Regions from separate parts of the Homo sapiens genome. Here region 1 is linked to region 2. Evidence: fine-mapped expression QTL. A gene starts in region 2. The other region holds a variant in brackets. All regions are shown on one strand. Distances are between the middles of the regions. Region 1 has its middle 36 kb from the start of ARL5A. Region 2 holds the start of NEB (nebulin).

Region 1 (8,349 bases), 58 kb after region 2:
CATGTCAAATCAACTTGGAAATTATGGCACTATTGTAGAGGTGGCAAGAAATGGGAAATACTTTAGCAGACATATTGGACTAAGTTCCCAGCCAAGAACCAAATAATTTAAAAAATATTTAAGTGCAAAGAAACCACTAAGGCAACATGTAACCTCCTTTTACTAACAAATAGATGTAGTAATAAGACAAATCCAGGCATATAGTACTTACATCACTTTATGATAATACATGCTAAGGAAAAGTAAAATTGGCCAAACCCTGAAAGTTTCTGTTCTGTATATGTATGGACACCCCCAATGCATGCCATGCTGGTAGTGGGGATATGGAGCTGAATGGGATCGAGTCACTGCCCTCCAGAGGCTTGCAGTCTGGAACGACCTGCTGAAAATAGACAAAAATCCCGCACTATGGCAACAGAGAAAGACGTGCTGAACCGTCTTCCAGATCAGGCCAGGCCTCCCAGGCTGATGGGAGAGCTCAGTCTTCAAGGATATGTCAAAGATTGCTATGTGAGAAAAGGAAGGAAAAGGCATTCTAGGTGGAAGGAACAGGCTAGATCAAGGCATGAGACAGAAAGAATAGATGTTTAGAATACATTTAATTATAATAACCAGTATTCAATATTTTAGAAATTGTTAAAAAGACAATCAGCAAAACCACTATTTATTGAGGTTCCAAAATATATTGGGCTTGTGTTAAGGGCTCTGATACATACTTAGTTAAAAATATAATGAAACTAAGGTCCAGGGATGTTACTTAGCTTGCTGATAATGTTGTGGGCATATTAATAGGGTGTCTTTTTTTCACAGTATCAGGCTGATGATTTTTCTTGGCACCATATCCTACTTACAGTTAGCTTTCTAAGAAAAAGATCAGGTAAAGTTAAAACATTTTTAAAGTTCTCCAGTTTGATTCTTATCTGTAGGCACATCTTTGTAATAAACGTAAAATAGCAGCATTCTTTACATGGCATAAGGTAGTTACAATTCCTTCCAAAGGAATAAGAACTAGGAAATTCCTGGGAATAGTCATTATAGGTCAATTTGACTCAACCAATTGTCTACTGTTTCTGAAGAACTTTTAAAAAGCTTTATTGCTAATCATTCTTCCCTGCCACTTGCCTTCTTACCTCAAATGTAAAAACTGAGTAACAAAAACTTTAAGGCAAAGCTCTTATTTTACAATATCATTTCAGGATTAAAAACAACAACATGAATTGAGTCACAACTATGTGCTTGGATCATAGAACTAGTTTACTTTCTTAATTGAATTAACATAACAGCATCATTTTAAGATTTGTGTAACTAGAGCAGGGTATGGTGGTGCAGGCCTGTAGTCCCAGCTATTCAGGAGGCTCAGGCAGGAGGATCACTTGTACTGAGGAGTTGAAGTCCAGCCTGGGCAACACAGTCAGACCTTGTCTCTAAAACTAAAATAAATAAATAAATAAATAAATAAATAAATAAATAAATAAATAAATATGTGTGTACCTGAGGCAAAGAACAGGCAGAAATACTGATGATCATTCTGCCAAGTTGGCAAAGAAGCCTTGCCCTTTTTTTTTCTATTAGCAGTACTTAATGTTCACTACATTCATTCATTCACGAGTTATTTTTTATATAAAGGTCATTAATGACATTAAATTGCCTATTATAATGGCCCAATGTAAACATCAGCAGTTTGTCAGCAAGAAAAGCTTCATTATTCACAAATGCTGGTCAAGTCTTGCTACTAATTCATTTGATGACAGAATGACCAACTGCCCCTTAAGCTGACAACCCTTCCCCTCCACTGCTATCACTGCAAAAACACATTGTCCCCTATCTGAACATGATAACCGAGTGTCGTTTCTGGGTAACACTGAGGTGATTCAAAACACACTTCATAATTAACAATGTGAATTATTTCACATCATCCCATCTCTTTATCATACCGTCATTCTTCCAGGCAGCAAGCTCCAACTGCTCTGTGCCTCCTTCCTCTCTTTCTCCTCATATCTAGTTACCACAACTCCTCTTCTGCCCAGACCAGTCCTGCAGGAATGTTTTTCTTCTTCTTATCCCCCTTTTTCATGAATTAAAAAAAAAATTATTTTTAGTTGACAAATTGTATGTATTTATGGGGTATAATGTGGTATTTTGATATGCTGGAGTAATTATTAATAGTGCCTTCTTTGACTCTTAAGCATGTCCCATTTTGGCTGATAACTTATATGGTTACTTACCCATATTCCATTAGATATCAAGTTTATCTTTGCCTTCTCTGCCTTGTTTCAGGCCTTCATTTTCTTTCACCAGGGATAATATAATAATCTATTTATGATGTTATCCCCAGTTTCCTCTCTTTTCAACCCATCTTTTAGAAGTTGCCACAATAACTTTCATTTTAAGAGGCTGGCCTTAAACTGTTATTCCCAGGCCAGGTGCAGTGACTCATGCCTGTAATCCCAGCACTTTCGGAGGCCCAGGTGAGAGGATCATTTGAGTCTAAGAGTTTGAGACCATCTTGGGCAACATAGCAAGACCACATCTCTAAGAAAAAAAAAAAAAAATTAGCCAGGCGTGGTGGTATGTGCCTGTAGTCCCAGCTACTTGGGAGGCTGAGGTGTGATGATCACTTGAGCCCAGAAGGTCAAGGATGCAAAGAGCCATGATCATGCTACTGCACTCCAGCCTGGGAAACACAGCAAGATCCTGTCTTAAAACAAAATAAAACAAGCAAACCTTCAGTGGTTCCCCAATGCCTACTACTACTGCCACCTCACTTTAGTCTATAAGGACTGTTGACTCTTGCTATCACTGTCTCTCTTCATATAGCCTCCAGTACACCTGATGTGAACTATTCACTTTACATTTGGAGTGGGTTTTTGTTTGTCTGTTTGTTTGTTTGTTTGAGATAGTCTCATGGTCCCCTGGGCTGGAATGCAGTGTTGCATGTTGCAATCATGGCTCACTGTAGCCTCAACCTCCCAAGATCAAGTGATCTTCCCACCTCAGCCTCCCAAGTAGCTGAGACAACAGGCACATGCCACCATGCCTATTTTTTTTGTTTGTTTTTTGTAGAGATGCGGGTCTCACTATGTTGCCCAGGCTGGTCTCAAACTCTTGGGCTCAGGTTCTCCTCCTGCCTGGGCCTCCCAAAGTGCTGACATTACAGGTGTGAGCCACCACACCCAGCCCCTTTGGGTGTTTTTAAATATAACTTTGGCATTTATAACAAATGCAACCACATGTTAGATCTTATTAGAAGTACTAAACTTTTAGGACACCAGATCAGGTTGAAGAGTATTTTGAGTACAGCAGTTAAACCATTTAAAAAGACCATTACCATTTACAACTAATTCTCTGCGGGCATTTGATGTCATTACTACACAGCCAAAAAGAACCTATCCCACAAACCAACCAACCACCAAACCATCTAAAGCAAAACACATAATATCAAGGCATAAGCTAAAAAGGTAATCTCTTTACATCTGCAATAATTGGTAAGAACTCTGTCAAAATCAGACTTGCACTGAAGGTTGCAAATGGCATTGCATCAGTGAATTTTTACCAATCACCTTTTGTTGTTGTTGTTGTTGTTGTTTTTTAATTTCAACTTTTATTTTAATTTCAGGGGATTTATGTGCAGGTTGTTACCTGAGTGTATTGCATGAAGCTGAGGTATGGGGCATAAATGATCCCATCACCGAGGCACTGAGCATAGTACAATAAAGCTTTTCAACCTTTGGCCCCCTTTCCCTTACCCCTCTAATAGTCCCCAATATTGCTGCCATCTTTATGTTCATGAGTACCCAATGTTTAGCTCCCACTTATAAGTCAGAACATGTGGTATTTGGTTTTCTGTTTCTATGTTAATTCGCTTAGGATAACAACCTCCAGCCACATTGCAAAGGATATTATTTTGTTCCTTTTTATGGCTGCATAGTATTCCACTTACCAATCATCTTGATCTCTGAACTGAGAGCTTCATCCCATTTACTTAATACAACTTTTGTATTCCTTCCCATCCCTATTAGATGATTCTTTAAAGACAAAATGATTCAGCAATGTTTTCTGATTATTGGTATAATGCGCTCAATATAGAATATCTGTAACATACAAAATCGTAATCAGAAAAATACTGGTTGTAATGTTGCCGCCTACAACTCCTAATGTTATAATACATTTCTTTCTT[C/CT]TTTTTTTTTTTTTTAAAGACATAGTCTCACTCTGACACCTAGGCTGGAGTGCAAACACAGCTCGCCGCAGCCTTGAACTCCTGGGCTCAAGTGATGCTCTCACCTTAGCCTCCTGAGCAGCTGGGACTATAAGGTACCTGTCACCATGTCTGGCTAGATTTAAAAAACATTTTGTAGAGACAGGGTTTCGCCATGTTGCCCAGGCTGATCTTGAGTTCCTGGGCTCAAGCAGTCCTCCGGCCTCAGCTTCCCAAGGTACTTTCCTATCTTTTTTCTATGTTTTTTGTTCTCGCATAATTCAGATGATAGATGTAAAAGTTTATATTATAAAAAAATTGTTTATCCTGTTTAACATGTCACAACCATTAATAATTTCCTCATATTATTTAAATCTGTTAAAATATTTAATGGTAGCATGTTTTATCATATAACTCAACTGTTTTTAATATGATGGACATAAATGGATGGACACTGGGTGACTTTTCTGAATGAACACAGGACTTCCTACACAGGACTGGCATTTAGGGCTGACAGCATAGATGGACACATTGGTGGGAGAGCATCCTAGAAGCAGAAGACTGGCCGTCTATGGTAGATAATAAAAGTTGTTCATTATTCTTCCCCAACATTAAAAAAAGGTCAGCTGAGAGATTGTATACATCTTTTACCTTCTACCCTTCCCAAAAGGAGTCAATGATTAGCATAGGCTGAATACATTATAAGCCGGTTAACAAGTAAACTGCACAATAAAGGCTAAAGATCACAGAAACCTTGTGGGCGGAGGGAAGCTTTGCACTGCCCACTGCTGGAAGGACTGGTGAACATGTAGCATGACCTGAAGATGCCCAGAGTGGTGGTGGCCTGTGACAGTAGTCAACAGGTTTACAAATCTTAATATAAAGTGTCTTAATATAGAGATGGCCGTGTATATGCTGAAGAATTGACCAGGATGTGGGGAATCTTTTCGGAAGACAATTAGGCAACAGGCTACCAAAGCCTTTTAAAAGGCCATATGCTTTGACACAGCGATTGGACTTGTGAGAATTCATTCTATGAAAAATAAATCCAAATGTTAACTACAGTAAAATTACTGCAATGGTAAGAAATAAGGAACAACAATGTACATCAACATTAGACTGGTTAAATAAATTATGTCATGTCCAAACAGCAAACACAATATATCCATTAAAATGTTTTATATGTAAATGATGTTTACAGTATATCATGGAAAAATAAAGAAGTTTTTGGAATTCTGTATTCAAAACAAACTAAGAAATGTATACTCATTTGTTGCATAAGGATGGGGATTTGTTCTAAGAAATGCATTACAAGTGATTTCATCACTGGGTGATCATAGAGTCTATGTATGCAAACCTGGATGGTATAGCTACATGGTATAGCCTATTGTTCCTAGGCTACAAACCTGTACAGCCCGTTACTGTACTGAACACTGTAGGCAATTCTAACACAACGGTTATGTATTTGTGTATCTAAACATAACGTAGGTACAACATATGTTACTTGGGTGATGGATACACTAAAAGCTCTGACTTCACCACTATGCAACCTATAGATGTAACAAAATTGTACTTGTACCCCATAAATTTATACAAAATTTCTTTAAAAGATAAAAAAAATGGTACACCTGTATAAGGCACTTAATGTGACTGCAGTTTGCAGGACTGGAAGTTGCTCTGGGTGAGTCAGTGGTGAGTGAAAGTAAAGGCCTAGGACGTTACTGTACAGTACTGTAGACTTTATGAACACCCTACACTTAGGCTAAATTTATTTTAAAAACAAACCGTGCTACAATATTACAACAGTTACAACATCACTAAGTGATAGGAATTTTTAAGCTCCATTACAATCTTACAGGACCACCACCGTGTATGTCATCCACTGCTAACTGAAACCCTGCTATATGTCCCAAAGTGTTGGTAACGGTTATCTCAATTTGACTTATGTCTCTTTTCTGATTTTCACTCAAAAGAGTCATGTATATCTTATGTAATTTTTTAAAAATTTTATTTATTTATTTTTTTGAGATGGAGTCTCGCTCTGTTGCTCAGGCTGGAGTGCAATGGCACAATCTTGGCTCACTGCAACCTCCACCTCCTGGACTCAAGCGGTTCTCCTGCTTCGGCCTCCTGAGCAGCTGGGATTACAGGCACGTGCCACCGTGCCCAGCTAATTTTTGTATTTTTAGTAGAGACGAGGTTTCACCACGTTGCCCAGGCTGGTCTTGAACTCCTGACCTCAGGTGATCCACCCGCCTTGGCCTCCCAAAGTGCTGGGATTACAGGTATGAGTCACTGCACAAGGCTGATTTTTTTTTTTTTTTTTTTTTTTTGAGACAGAGTCTCACTCTATCATCCAGGCTGGAGTGCAGTGGTGTGATCTTGGCTCACTGCAACCTCTGCCTCCCAGGCTCAAGCGATTCTTATGCCTCAGCCTCCCAAGTAGCTAGAATTACAGGCGTGCACCACCATACCCAGCTAATTTTTTGTATTTTTAGTAGAGAGGGGGTTTCACCATATTGGACAGGCTGGTCTCAAACTCTTGACCTCAAGTGATCCGCCCACCTCAGCCTCTGAAAGTGCTAGGATTACAGGTGTGAGTCACCAAGCCTGGCTGTAATTTTTTAGGCCAGGTGCAGTGACTCACAACCGTAATCCCAGCACTTTGGGAGGCTGAGATGAACAGATCACTTTAGACCAGGAGTTCGAGACCAGCCTGGCCAAGATGGCAAAACTCTGTCTCTACCAAAAATACAAAAAAATTAGCCAGGCATGGTGATGCATGCCTGTAATCCCAGCTACTCGGGAGGCTGACGCAGGAGAATTGCTTGAACTTGGGAGGCGGAGGTTGCAGTGAACCAAGATCACACCATTGCACGCCAGCCTGGGTGACAGAGTGAAACTCTGTCTCAAAAAACACACCACTTTATATGCTGAAAAGATAATTATAAAAATTTAAGCAGTATACTAGGATGTGTTTTGCACACACATCTGCAAAAACATGACAAAAGATAATATATTCACTATTTAAACAGAGCTCCAGTGGTGAAATTGGTTAGCACATGATACTTATATTTACTGTTTTAAGAATTTAATTTATTCACAAGAACACCAAGATTATAATAAATGAATAAAGCAAAAGAACAATTCAGAGGGTATTAAAACAGCAAAGAAAAATAGTCTCAATAACTAAATAGGTGCAAAATATAACAATATGCTTATCTCTCTATTAAATCGGAAAGGGTTTTGTTGTTTAACATATAGTGAAAATTTGAAATAGGCACCCTCAAATCCCATCCTACCATTTAATCCAGTAGTTTCACCTGAGATTACAGCCAGAAGAAATAATTTTAAATATGAAAAAACACACTAAGTAGATGGCCATTGCAATGTTATTTGTAATAATATAGGAAATACAGTAGAATATAATTTGGGGATCTAAATATATTGGAATTGTTTCAAAAAGATTTTTTCAGTAAACATCTATTTTGGTATAGAATAACTGGCTAGAATGCAAAGTATGTAATGATGAAAATAATGGGTCACCTAGGCATCCCAACTCATGGAATCCCAAAAGGGTGGTAATCAATCATAAGGAACACATTCAAAAGGACTGTTAGAGGTTATTCTAATGTTGTGAAAATCTCATCAATTTCATGGGACAAAAGTTATTTACTAGCAAAAAGGGGATATTCCAGATATTAAAAAATGAAGAACAAGCATAAAAGATGAATAAAATGACACAGCTGTTTTTCCAAAAAAGCTGGTATACCATTTACTATTTCAGTATCTGCAGATGCTGACAACAAACTCTGGTATGTTACTTACATTCCTTGATGTAGGCCCACACAGATTTCAAATACATAAAATTTGTATATATCTGCCACTGCATGATGCTTTTAGACCATTTTTAAGGAAATAAGTGCTATTTCTACTGAAAGAATGAATGAGAAAAACATACAGTCACCTAAAAACTCTTTTGAAGTTAGGCAGAATTAAATGAGAATTGAGGTAAGTGTTACGTAAGAATTAAACGAGGCAGTATGCTGCAATCACATAGGTCAAAAAAAAAAACCTACCTATGAGAACAAAAGAGGTAGAAAAAAACAACAAAAACGTTAGTAGTCCATTCATTCATTCGTCAACACATATAA
Region 2 (8,349 bases):
AAAGGTGAAATAATCCATCAAACAGGTAATGTTTGTGCTTTCACACCAGCTTCTGGGCACAGGTAGGTGAGTGATCCTCTGTCAGATAATCCCTTTTGCCATCTTTGTGGCCCTGGGAGTCTAAGAAAGGAGAAAGCTCTTCCTGCTTTAATGAGAATGCAGTTTATGCAGCTGTGGGCTGGGCCTTACCTCTCCCGGCACCTCTTCGTAAACCACTTCTTCTGTGTAGTACTGTAAATAGAGCACAAAGGCATTGGCAAGAGAACCAAAGCAGAAACCACCTCTCCTCTGCCTCAGCTGAACCACTTAGGTGACTGCACTAGCTCGGTTGATTTGGAATGTCTGTGGGAAAGGGGTAGGTGAGGGAGCCTGTTCATATTTTGGAACCCATCTTCACTTTGTAATACTTCAGGAAAGCTAAAGTGAATGCCATCCAAATGGACAAAGAGATGCAGAGGGCTGAGAAAAATGTATGAGGCTGTTTTTTAATCAAGAGAAGCTATTTTACTTTACTGGGACATGGAAATTTTTTTCTTATGGTCCCCAAGATAGAATTTGCTGAGAAGAGAATACAATAAGAAGATCCTGAGTGTGTGGGTTGGGCAGAGAGGAACTGTGATAAAACTCACTGTTTGCAAACTAACAATAAACTAAAACAGAAACTCGAGTGTGAATACATTTTTAAATGGATTGCATCATGGAAATAATAAGATCCCAAGGTATATCCACATCTCAATTATTCCTATACCCTCCTGATTAGTAAGTAATAAGTTTCTTCTGGAGTGATGGGTGAGTCCCTTTCAATAGTGTGATTGTCCTAAACAGAGTGGTGCTAATATGAAAACTGGTAAATGCCAAGTAATGAAGGGGAAAATGAGAAGATTCTTCATCACAAAGTGTGGGAAAGGTAGGCTGCAATTTGCCATAGTGGCTCTGAGGTCATCATGGCCTGCATGATGGATCTGCAGCCTGGATCTGAAACCAAGTCTACTTTTGTTCTACTTCTGACATCACCAGCAATAAATAGATGCAGAAAGGAACTGGTTGACACTTGGTTTCAGATGTGTAAGGAGAGAGGAATCCTGTCCTTAGCCTCACCCTGCTCTGTAGGGTGAACAGAAGGAGAGGCTCGTTTAGGCCAAGCACATGAGGAAAGGGATAAAGATGAAACACTTGGCTCATTTCTTAGTGAAAAAAAAAAAAAAAAAAAAAGGATGTAAAACACTTTATGCTTCCTTTTTCTTATCTTTAACACCAAAACATACAGCACTCAAGGGAAGGGAAAACATTAAGATGCAAAATTTCCCTCAATGGCCTGCATTCTTTTCAGTGAAGTGTCATCAAATTACTTAACCATTGTCAGTAGGCCGCCTGTGCTATTTCACCTGCGTTAACAATCGTCTAGAACTTGCCTAATGTTCCTCATTCTTGTGCTTTCTTTACTCTTGAGCTATTGTTTTAATTTAAAATCTAATTCTGCCTGTATGTCGTTACACATAGCAACAAAAATCACAAGCACTGACAGGACAGAGATTTGCTTTTTTACAGTTGTGACTTTTCAGCACATGAGAAATATCATTTGGACACTAGAAAATATTGTTTGATGCTGACGCCACATAGAGTCATTCCTCCAGTCACACAAAACATCAGTGGCTTCAGAAGAAATATTAAAATAAAATGGAAGATTCACAACTATTTTGGATTTTCTCAGCATCCAAGTTTAAAAGCAGCTCCTTGGAAACCATTCAATTTTACCTTTGCTGGGCTCTCACCATTGGTAAATCCATCTTAGAAATACGCTTATAAAAGAGGCAACATTATTTAAATGGTTGGCATTAACTTGTATGCCAAATCTCACTCTTTTTTTAGAGCTGTGCCACTAATTAGATAGTGCATCCTTGCTTCTCTCTCTTTCTTTTCAAGTTTAAGTTAGAGTAGAGAGAACAGTAAAACTTTATTTCAGATGTCCAAGATCCCAAGGAGATATATTTTTAAAGCCAGTTCTTCTCTGTTTTCTGCATATTTTTAAAGCTAGTTCCTCTCTGTTTTCTAAAATCTTCCCTGGCCATTTTTTCGAATGCACCACCCTCTTATGCTCATGATCTTTTTTGAGGTCAAAGAGATCTCAGTTCAATACTTTCTGGCAGGCAGTCTATTCGTTTATCACCTGCTGGTCAGACACAGATGCTGTAATGGGAACAAAATGGTAGGGATGGGATGTCTAAAAATAGCCACCTCCTTTTTTATGACATCTAGTTGAATCAATCAAGTCTAGCACTAAGGACAATTTCCAGTGGCAAAGGTACACAATTATTTTAAGAAAGACAAGGGATATTTAAGTTGGAGAGTAAAAACTGTTACTGGCATTATTATCATAGGGAAGACAATTTAATTTATAATTGTATTAGTGTTTGACAGTGATATTTCTGACCCTTAGGTACATAAGTAAAATGCACACTAGTGATAATATCAGCATGAAAGATGTGGTATCAGCATTTAAGCCAGAGAGGCTGAGTGTTACATTGTACGAGATTCATTCTATTTTTTCCCTCATATCCTTCAGTAATAAAAGCTATTTTATTTGTAGAATAAATAAAATTTTCTTCATCTAAATATAGACTGGTCACTAAAATAATTTTCCAAAGAGAAATTTTGGCACTGCCACCTAAAATTTGGTTCTGGGTAGCTCTTACAGTTAATTTCAGTCTTATTAAAAAGCACAGATTTTCAAAACTGCCTCCAAGTGCCTTAGGCATTTGGAGATTTTCATGTGTTTAGATCATCATCATTAATTGGTAATTATTAAGCACATTCAGATTCATGGCACTGTATTTATGTGCATTATAGTTCCAAGCCTTTAGATTTTATTTCTAGAATGTGAAGCTAAAGGCAAGAGCCGGTGAGGAAAAACCGTAAGATGATAAAAACAAAAGGATGTAAAATAAATATAAAATAAATGATTAACAGCTTTGTAAAATGTGTTAGATGTCCACTAATAATTGGAAGGAAAATTTTCAAGATACCCACTATAGTCTTTGTTCTTATTCAAAATTCAAAAGCAAAAGCTAGTCTTGTTGACTTGGGTAAATATAATGAAGTTGGTAGGAAGGTGTGGCTCCAACAATCGCTGTGACCTTCATGCCTTTATTTATATTTGCTTGTATGTGTGTGTCTGTGCACATGTGTATGTATTATGTATAAAGTCTCACATCTGCATATAATTTCATACATATGATTATTCTGAATATCTAACCCATGTTACCCTATAGATGATTAGCTAGTTGAAGCAAAGAATAAGGAGTAGATCTTTTCTTCTATTGCTATACAGATACTAAGAGACAGAGTTCCATTTTCAGAACTTTCTCTTCGTCTCTGTCCCTTTGAACATCGGGGTTGGGAAGTGGGGAAGAAAGCAGTTTTAGAAGACGAATTAAAACCTGCCTTTACTCCAACTTGGTTTTTTGAGAGCTTAAAGAAAAGCAAAAGTGGGAAACAGTGATATTTCCTGTCAATTCTAAATCCCACATAATTATAGTGAAACTGAACATAAAATATTCCTTTCTTATGCTTTAAATGATGACTCTTTGTGAAGTTATAATAGACAATGTATTTTTCGAATGATTAATTCACCTACACAGCTTTGATTGTCACTACATAAAATAGTTTGCTGTCAGTGTTTTTTTTTTAAATCTTACCTCCACCACCTCCTCATAGTCTTCGTCATCTGCCATTTTTCCAGAGTAGTAGTGGCACCTACAAACTTTTCATATTCCATACAAATGAAAACATATTAGAGTCTATTCCCAGCACAGAAATTATCTTATGACATTATAAAAATAGAATTTGAAGCTAAACTATTGTACAAATTCATATATTGTTGCAGGCTAAAGGAGAGAAGACATTTAAAATACAAGTATAAACAGCAGAAGCTTCAAATTTCTTTCTCTTTATTCCTTCAGTGTTGGGAATTGCTACTTCTACATAATCAGTTTAGTTAAAATTGTAAAACGAAATTGAGGTAAGGAAGTGAGAGAGTTTGGACTCAGGGAACAGAGAATTTAAACTTCCAAACACTTAGAGAAAAGACATTTTCCAGCAAAAATTTTAGTGAAAGGTCAGCTTGGGTTTCAGAAGAAGCTGAAATTTATCCCCCAGCACCAAAATTCTAAGAGGGCTGACTTAGTTTTCCATACTGCCCTGATCCACTGTTTGCAATATATCTTAGGCTTCAAATTGGAACCCATAAAAATACATCTGTCAATAAATTTTAAAAGAAAAAAAGAAACCTCAAGGCAATGGGGTTATTTTCTTCCCGAACACCATTGGCTTATACAGACTTTTTCTTTCGTTTCTGTAGCTCTCGTTCAAACCTGAAAAATAACAAAGTTGTAAAGCATTGATTGAGGTACATATAGGATTGTCAGTCCTTAGCCTAAGCTTCTAATGCAGAAAACAGCGAAAGGATCTCTCAAGGCCTCTACAGTTTGACGCCAGAGAGTAAGACTCTTGATATGAAGTGGATGATGAGTTGGAACAGCTGTCCCTTCATCCAAAGATGTTTGCCATGTAAACCAATACCCTGCAGTGGCTGGTTTTGTTAAGCTAGCGAAACTGCCACTCCTCAGGCAAATGAAGCCCAGTAGAACAGGATAAATATAGGAACGTAGAGCAGCGTATCTTCTTTTTCACACTAATATATTTAGAGAAAAATATCAAAGGCAAAAAAATGTTAGACAAGAGAGCCAATTCAGTCAAGCAATAAATTGGTTAGCAAAGGACTTGACTCTAATCACACACGGTACATAGCAGATATTAGTAGGGCCTTAGTAGGGCAATGGGGTTAAACTCTCCTAGCCATATTTCTACCACTAATTTCCTCAGTTATGGCCCAAACCTTTGAAAAATACTTCGAGGGAAGTTGTGGAGCATCTCCTGAAAGAGTATTACAGAAAAAGTCATAAACTGGCCTTACCTTCAATCTACCAAATAAATTTCCTCAGCAGCAAAGCCTCTCCCAACTCTCCCCTCCTGAGAACCCCAGGCAAAAGCCAGCGTGATGCCTGGGCTCCGAATTATCATGTGGCAAGAGCAACCAATCAGATCTTGAGTTGCTCAAATTTCAGAAGCTAAATTTACCAAGTGATCTTCTGAAAACCACCTGTTCATCAATTCCACTAAAGGATAAAGGGTAACAAATTGCTTGCTTAGAACAATTCAAATGGAATCAAATTTTACCTAACTTCCAGCCTGTGCAGTTCAATTTTAGGTTGAATTTCCCATTTACTGAGGCCCCATTCAATGTCATATTCATGCAAAAGAATTTAGTAGAAAATAAGCATGACTTTGAGAGGCTTTAACCCTTCCGTGACTGCTTTCTTCATGTCATTTGTCCAGTCATGGTGGTAAATGTACTCACTCTGGTAAGGTTCACCAGGTGAGCTACAGGTAAGTTACTGGTGCTAGTGTGAAAGAAACTGAGGAATAAGACCCAGTAAACATCAAGTTGACAAAAGCAATTTTTAAAAATGTGATGAGTGAAGTTAAAGGTGAAAATATTTGACAATGGCACTAAATAAGATATCCACAGGGTGTAATTAGAAAGATTAGACCCCATCATTTTTCTGTTACTAAACCAAGAGGGTATACCAAAATCCTATTTAGCACCTTCTCCCTCCTTAGATAAGGCAAGCTGCTAGGAATACAGAACCTCTCTCATATGTAACCGAGTTAGTGATTTTTCTATTAACTCAGATGACTCCTGGCTCCCAGAAGCAACGTGTGAATGCGGACACAAACAGGCTCAATTTCTGAACAGCAAGAGCAGATAACATGGAAATCAGTAACTTATCAGGAGAAAATAATGCCCTATTTGGCAAATCCGAACGTAAGACATTTCCTTCATAAAAATTATCTAACCATTTTCTTAAAACTTGCCTGATGTCTTTCTTGCACTTTCTTTGCTCCTGAAGTATTTTTTCTAATTTAAAATCTAATTCTATCTGTCTGTCTGTCTGTCCTTACACACAGCGACAGAAATCACAGGCTCTTATGTGACAGAGAACTGCTCTTTCTCTGGGTTGCTCCTGTATTCAGGCAAAACCCTGTGAGTCACCTATATCTTGATATGGATTTGAGATTAAACATATTGTAATATTTTTTCTTTTTTAAGTTAAACATTAGAAAGTAATCTCGCTGGGCGTGGTGGCTCACGCCTGTAATCCCAACACTTTGGGAGGCCGAGGCGGGCAGATTGTCTGAGGCCAGGAGTTTGAGAAAGTAATCTCATATTTCAAATACATGTACCTTTTCCCCCTCCATGATTCACATGGTAGTAAATAAAATCTAACAGAATTTTATCATCTTAACTGATTATACCTGTTCATCTTGTATGTTCTCACAGGTCTTATGACCAAAGGATATTTATGTAATATGAGATCACTCACTTGGTAGCTGCAAACTAGAATTGTGACTTACTAGTCATTACATGCTTTAAAATGTGTTGTTGAATTAAAAAATAATACAGGCCCATACTTTAAAAACATAGAGTACAAAATTATATAAAGTAAAAAATGAGCATTGACCTTCTTAGTCATTTTTAAGTTTCAGATATTTTCAATATAGATATTGACATAAATCGATATACTTAATATGCAATAGACATTTTTATGAAACATCACATAAACATATCCTACTCTAATTTCCACAAATAATTCTATTGATTGGATAGAGTATAATAGTTTAATCATTATTAATGGACATCTAGGTTGTTTCGAGGTTTTTGCTATTACAAAATAAAGCAAAACAATGCGAAACAAAACACACAGTAAGCATCCCTGTACATTACCTTTGTATACTTATATGAAATGTATCTGTAAGGTAAATTTCTAGAAATAGAAATACTGAGGCAGAAGATATATGCACATTTTGAAAATTGATAGATATTGTCAAGTTGCCAGTCAAAATCCTTACACTATTTTATGTTTCACTAACAGAGAATGAGGGTTCCTATGTATACACATCTCAATATCCTTAGGGATTATTAGACTGAAAAATCATTACTATCTGAGCTGAATGTGTCCCCCCAAAATTTATATGTTGAAGTCCTACCCCCCGATGTGTGGAAAGTGATTGGGTCATAAGGGTGGAGCCCTCACGAATGGGATTAGTACACTTATGAAAGAGGCCCCAGAGAGCTGCCTGGCACTCTCTCTGCCATGTGAAGTTACAGGGGGATGATGGCCAGCCACAACCTGAAAGAAAGTCCTCACTAGAACCCAACCATGCCAGCACCCTGATCTTAGACATCCAGCCTCTAGAACTATGAGAAGTAAATTTCTGTTTATAAGCCATCCAGCTTATATTATTTCTGTTATAGCAGACCAAATGGACTAAGACACTCTTTATACATTACTTTTGAAACCACTATGATAGTAAATAGAAGTGCTACAGATGAGCAGAACCTCAAACTCCATTCATAATGAAGTGTGCATCTAAAAAGTTAGGGTGGGGGGTGGGGCAAGAGTGAGTTCACATGAAATTACCCTGGCTTAGATCTCTTGGGATAAATTCCTCCTAAAAGAAAGCCCCAAAGCCCCTGCTAAACTGGCCTGCTGCAGGTTGCCCTAATAATTTGCAAAGCCATCAGAAGTAAGAGACTCACAGGAGAGCTGGTTATATTCCTACCATGGTTACACAGGGGTGAGTGAACCAGCAAGCAGCTTATATTTACCTCCTAGTCACACTAGAGAAAAACACTGCCACCTCCTTACTAAATTCTGCAGATTCTAATCTGGAATGATGCCCTCTAGAGATGAAAGAACAGCTTTATTTTCCTGGCCTATCTATGACCTCTTCTGTGGAACGACAGTACATTGGCACCCTGATTTATTGGTAGGTTCTTATTATATGCCTTGCACATGGTAAGTGTTCAGTAAATGTTAGCTATTATTATTTTTACTATTATCATTTTTTACATTATATTGGAAGCTTCACGCTTTATTCTGTATTTAACTGAAATACCAAATATCTTGAAGCTTCTAAAATCAGACAATAGTTAGTCTAAGAATTTATGAGTACGCAGGCATCTGACTAGAAGCTTGTACAACTGGCTACAAACCAAAGCAGGGCAGTTAGGTGCCAATATCGGAACTTCAGATAAGGCTTCCCTAAATATGAAAATATAGAAGTGTCATGCCTGGAGACCAAAAAAGACATGATAAGGGGAGATGGGATTGTAACAGTTTTTGTTGTCATTACTTTGATTTCAGTATTTTGATCAACCTCTATATGAACATAGCTTAAGAATCAAGCTTAAGTTTCATAAGACTTGCTACTAAATCAACATTTCCT

Evidence for each region. PIP is the estimated chance that this variant, and not a neighbour inherited with it, causes the effect.
Region 1: its variant is fine-mapped to the expression of NEB in CD4 T cells (BLUEPRINT, PIP 0.95).

Annotation. Positions count from the first base shown.
Region 1 is chr2:151,787,818-151,796,166 of GRCh38, forward strand. No RefSeq gene overlaps it. Among named protein-coding and RNA genes, the nearest start is that of ARL5A, 36 kb to the right of the region's middle. The variant C/CT (reference allele first, on the strand shown) is at 4,178.
Region 2 is chr2:151,729,426-151,737,774 of GRCh38, forward strand. It overlaps NEB (nebulin), which reads right to left and starts at 5,051. Exons shown (of 182, transcript NM_001164508.2): 1 at 4,973-5,051; 2 at 4,287-4,370; 3 at 3,696-3,760; 4 at 190-231. The coding sequence starts at 3,731.